2 separate regions of the Homo sapiens genome follow, and region 2 is linked to region 1. Evidence: fine-mapped expression QTL. Tissue or cell type: whole blood. Region 1 holds a variant in brackets; the other region holds the start of a gene. All regions are shown on one strand. Distances are from middle to middle.

Region 1 (2,759 bases):
CTGTAAATCATAGATGGGGTATTGTATACTCTTGTTACAACATCATCTAGCCAACCTTTCATCTGTCCCATGTGGAAGGTTCTCCAGTTTACATTTTTGGGTTATATGAATGAAGGCAGAGTACTATCCTATAATTAAGACTAAAACCTCTATCAAGAAGCAATGGGAGGAAAAGAGGTGAATTTACTTTGCATCCAAGATGATGGGCTTACTGTACTATAAGTAGTTCAGTGTATAGTGCAACAGGTATATTTTCAGAAGAAAGAGTCCTGGAGAGCTTGTAAAAAAATGGAAAGTAGATTCAAAAGAAATACTTTTAAAAATACATAAACATGCAAGAATGTTCATAGGATTAAAAAAACCAAATGTGCAGTAAAAGGGTAATAGGTAGAATAAATTTTTCCATATCTTATATATATGTCTGTAAAATGGGTATGTAGTCACTTAAAAGAATGATGTAGATATATATGAACTGACACACCAATGATCCAGGAATACCAGAACACGAAAAGACAACAAAAGCTGCCGAACAGTATCTTGGTATCACTACGTGTGTGTTCGTATATCCCCACATAAAAAAATAGTAATCTCTGGGGTTGGCGACATGAGGTTTTCTCATTTTTTGGATTATACAATTCCTTGTTGCTGGAATGTCCACCAATAAACATGCACTAGATGGCTAACTTTGAACATGTCTTCCCTGCCGGTGTGTAGGAAAAGTGCAGTAGCTAACCACTCTGTAAACACTATGGGCACAACTGGTAACCTAATCCATTGACCTGGAAGATGATGATGGCCCTTGGAAAGGGTCAGCAAGGAGAATAAAGTGACTGGAGTTAGCACATCTGCTATCTTTAGCAGGGTGTGCCAAGTTTTGTAAACAAATTATTTTGTAATTGCCTTATGTTTAATGTTCTTCAAAGCCGTAGAGCAAAAGAACAGATTATTTCTGAGAAGTGAAAAACAATTTTCATTTCACTATGCTGCTCTCCATTGGTCACTTGGGTATGTCCTTGGAAATAGATGTCAGAGTCCTGAATCAAACTGTGCCTTTAACTAACATTGTAACCTCAAATTGAGTCATTTAATTGCTAATCTCTTAGTTTCCCCACCTGTTAAAATTGATAATAATAATCCTTACCATCGCATTCCTGAATGAGGTGTTGTGACGCTTAATAAGATCATGTTTGCAAAACGCTTTGAGCTCTTTAGATAGAAGACACAATATAAACACAAAGTCTCATTAAGATAATTATACAGTGATTTTTCATAGTTTACATGCAAGGCTAAACCTAGTGATGGGGAGGTCATTTTATGAGAGCAAAGAAGA[A/C]GACTGGCTTTCAAAATCTGAAAATGAAATTCCTAACACATTTTAAAGACGAATATAGTACAAACAGTTTTTAGAATATGAGAGCTTAGTTTTGAGAGATGATTCAAAAAAATGAAAAAATTTTTGGAAGTTTTGTGTTTAACTGAAAACATCTTTTGTAAAACAGAGTGATCACTTCTATCCCTTGAAAGAGAAAGAAAATAAAAGCAAGCTCTTCAAGAATAGTGCTGGTTTTTTACAGAAAGTTTTATCATTAATAGGGCTATAAAGTGGCGAAACCTGTCTGGCCCACTGAGCGTACGGACGGTGGACTCATTAATGCTTGGCAGAGTCTCCTCCTGGGTGGCACTGTAGCAGTTGCTCTTGCGATGGAGCAGGGGAGGCACATCCCCCACATTCTCCTTCCTCCCAGGCTGTCCTGAGAATCTATCATGTTTACCACAGGCTCCCCACCCTTTGGCACCATGGGTGCCTGCTACCACTGTAGCCCAAGATATGGACAGTCCATTTCAGTTCCCAGGATTTGGAAGTGCCGGCACAGGAGGTCGGTAACCCCAGAGGAAGGTAAGCTTGAAAACAGAAGCCTGTTCTCTGGGTTGCAGGTGGAGAGAGAAGGGTGTTCATTGAACATAGAGATGAATCTAACTAGATCATCAGAATAGAAGTTTCTCTCTACTTAGTGTTTTTAGCTTTCTAGTTTTTATGGGCTGAACTATGAAGAATTCTAGCTGAAAAGTCATTGTTTTGTCGCATAAGTTGATTCAGATGTCCTCCAGTTGATACCTGCAGGGGTGCTGATCTCCAATTTTTTAAATTATACCATCTGAATATTAGCATTTTCATTCAATTATGTTGAACAAAACTAAGAATTTATGTGTCTAATTTTTTTTTTTTTTGTAAAGGAAGGTTTACGGCCAATCTTTTTTTATAGACATTATTTTCTTCATAAAGACTTTGGAGTATGAATGTGACTAGAAATTGTTTGAAATTTAAAGATTTTATACCATTCTTTAAAGATAGGTTGATGTAATAAAATGCTGTATCAATATCAAGAAATACTTAATCTAGATTATTTAACCAAAATAGGTGAAAATATTTGTATCTAATATTTCATATGGAAATTGTTTAAATCATGCTTTTTGTATTTAATATTTAATATGAGCATTATTAGGATGTGAGAGGAAGAGATTTTCTGATTTCTTGTTTCCTACAGGAACTGTCCCTCATTCCTGTCAAACAAGTTTCACTTGATTCTTATCAACAAGTTTATACTGAAATTAGAAAAATTACCTAGGAAAAATAAATTATGTAAAGGTAATTAATTTCAGCATTAAGGGAGAAATTGACATTTTTTACTTTCCTATTTCTCTGTTTGCTGGTGCTTATTTGAAGCCATGATCTCCATTTTTCTGGTTTGTTCTAATCATTT
Region 2 (2,759 bases), 75 kb before region 1:
TCAGGACAAAATTCTATCTTCAAGTACCAAATGGGTGATACAGTTCGCATTTATCCAAAAGCAGATTAAAGACAATGCCTTTTCTTGCCTACCTACTTGGAAAAGATCTCAGTGTCACTCAAATCACATTCCAAATCTCAACGACATTAAGGCCTCAAATCCTCTTAGGAAAGGTTTGAAGGTAGTTCATTTCAGTAATGATTAGACACTTGGGGACAAAACAGTACCTTGGCATCAAGGTCTGTACTGATTCACCAGCACAGAAATAGCAGTAACAAGATCTTCAACTCTGAGGTGTTCAAATAAGCAGACAAACTCCCTCGTGAGGCCCAGGCCTCTTGACATCCGGACTCAGTCTTTCTTTCTCAGATCGCCAAGGGTCTGGCCCATTTCTCAGCCTAAACCTATTTTGCGTTTAATTCAAACCAGTCAAAGTAACTTAACCGCCAGCAGTTAAAAAGCTACTAGGAGGAAGCGTAGGCAGGAGATGGGAGAGGAAAAGGCTCCTGTCAGGGTTTGGGCTTATGTGTGGATTCTTGAATTCTCCTTCTTTGTTCCTTTTAGCACTTACGATCAAGAACGGCTAGGCTGAGGGGGCAGGGGGGCCAGGCCACTGGAGCGAAACGGCCTCTCCGGATCTGGAGGCGTGGGAACCTCGGGAATAGTGGGGAGTTCCAGACCAGTTCCCTTCCCCCATCTGAACAAGTCCAGAGCGTGCGCCTTGAGAGGCGCTCGGAAACAGGGAAGCTGGGGACACGTAGCGAGAGACTGGTTGTCGCCCTGGCTGTCCGTCTTAGACCTAGCTTAGCGACCACCGCCTTCAATCCCTCAGCCCGGATCAGACGGTGCCAAAAGACAGCACTGCTTCCCAGCCTGGCCCAACGGCTCGGCTGCTGATTGGGCACCGCCGCCTCCCGCCCCGCCTCCCCTGCCACCTCGGGCGCCGCTGCACGTTTCCACTGGTCTTCAGCCCTGCCGATCAGTTTACTGCTCACCTCCCCCAAACAGCTCGTCAGGCCGGCGCGTGCTAGGAAGGCGGGGCCTGTGGCCTGTGGGGCGGAGCCTCGGTGGAGGTCGGCGCAGCTGCCCCTTTGGGCTTTGGCTCTGGACTGGAGCGCAGCATCCTTCGAGGCTGCAGCCGCCACGGCTGTTGCCGTAAGCAATCCTCCTGCCTCAGCCTCCCGAGTAGCTGGGACTCGGGACCAGCCTCCCGAGTATTGGTCAGGTAAAGAGAGTCTTGTCTGTTCTGCTGGCCATCTGCCCGTCTCTTCTTCCCGACCAAAGGCTGCCTGCTCCGCCTTCCCCCGTGGCTTTCAGGGTTCTTGGAATGAGGCATCAAGTCTATTTACCCCGCCAGCTTATCTTCCTCCCCTTCTGTGTCGGTTCCTCCAGCTCCCCCACCAAGCTGCTCCCAAGTACGTTGGTGGGCCCTCCGGGTCATCCCAACGCTCCTCACTACAGAACTCCTGTCGTTGACTCTCAGGTCCCAGCCCCCTTGACCCGCCAGTGCAGTCTCATTCCCAGCTTGGCACAGGAAAGGTGGAGGGCGGGAGGGCGGGAGGGCGGGGGACGGAGAGATGCAGAGCTTTTTTTTTTTTTTTTTTTTTTTTTTGAAGCTGGATGTGTTTAGCGCAGAGGGGGAGCACCACAATGGGATTGCATTGGGAACAGAAGCAGCTTCATGACTATGGTTGGCAATGACTAGAAAGGTATCTGTTGCTGCTTTTTGCTTGTGTTTATAGATGACATTTACCATCACCGTTTTCTTCTTCTTTCATCATCATCATCATCACCATTGCCACTACCACCACCTCCAAGGCCACTACCACCACAGCATCTCTGTTCCTCCATCAGAGCTCTTCAAGTTCTGTAAAGGCAGATTCTCTAAAGGCATGTAAGTGCTGACGGATCCCCCAACCCCCTCCCCCACCACCAAATAACGAACAGTGCTCTTGCCCCCTGAGGCCAGAGCCAAGCCCTCATTTAACTCAAGAACAAGTAGCTGGGAGCAGAGTGTGAGCTGGGAGGATTTTCCTTATCCTCATTTGCAATTGAGATTGCCAAAGAAAACCCTTTATTTTAATCATCCACATTTCTGCTTGCTGTCTCCTGGAGAGTTCCATGTTAGCACTCACACACTCCGAATGGGCTGAATGCAGAGCCTGAACCTGTGATATATATGGGGAGTGGCAGTCACTGAGAGGTGAATGTCCAGACCCAATCCTTTAAGAAGACCAGGTGGAGTAGCAGACAACCTGACTTTCTGCTACAGTAGCTCCAGCTGTACTAAAGCATGTTTACTATTCATGTTTGCATATGGGACATGTGCCATCATCTGCTATGCCCCCTTGCGTGTGTATTGGCAGGGGGGCGGAGGGGCGCATCTAAATTCCTAGGAGAGAGAATTATATTCTGTTCTCTACACCAGGTAGCATCTTATAGGCACACCAATGGGATTCAACAGCCGTTGCTTAGCTGTTTCTAGGGCTTACTGCAAATCTCTTGGATCACAGACTTATTAACCCTTTTTTGGGAGGGAAAACAGTATAGCTGAGAATTGCATACCAGATTAACTGTCGTTGTGGAAGATGTTGCTTCCACAATGAATCAATGAGGTCTCGGGTCTTCTTGATCAGATATCTAAACACTAGTCTCCTTTCTCTCAACTGTGTTACAGTCCAGGAGCAGGACCAATGAATAGTTAGACATATTGCAGGAACAAAGAAGCAATGGCCTCAATGGAGGGAAACAATGGAGAA

What was found. PIP is the estimated chance that this variant, and not a neighbour inherited with it, causes the effect.
Region 2: FMN1 starts here. The variant in region 1 is fine-mapped to the expression of FMN1 in whole blood (INTERVAL, PIP 0.99).

Annotation. Positions count from the first base shown.
Region 1 is chr15:33,118,384-33,121,142 of GRCh38, reverse strand. The region is part of intron 4 of FMN1 (formin 1); the gene reads left to right. Among named protein-coding and RNA genes, the nearest start is that of FMN1, 75 kb to the left of the region's middle. The variant A/C (reference allele first, on the strand shown) is at 1,331.
Region 2 is chr15:33,193,044-33,195,802 of GRCh38, reverse strand. FMN1 (formin 1) reads left to right here and starts at 1,089. Exons shown (of 21, transcript NM_001277313.2): 1 at 1,089-1,225; 2 at 1,743-1,894. It overlaps LOC105370759 (a long non-coding RNA gene), which reads right to left and starts at 892. Exons shown (of 3, transcript XR_932090.3): 1 at 228-892. RefSeq lists silencers at 787-996, 771-1,110.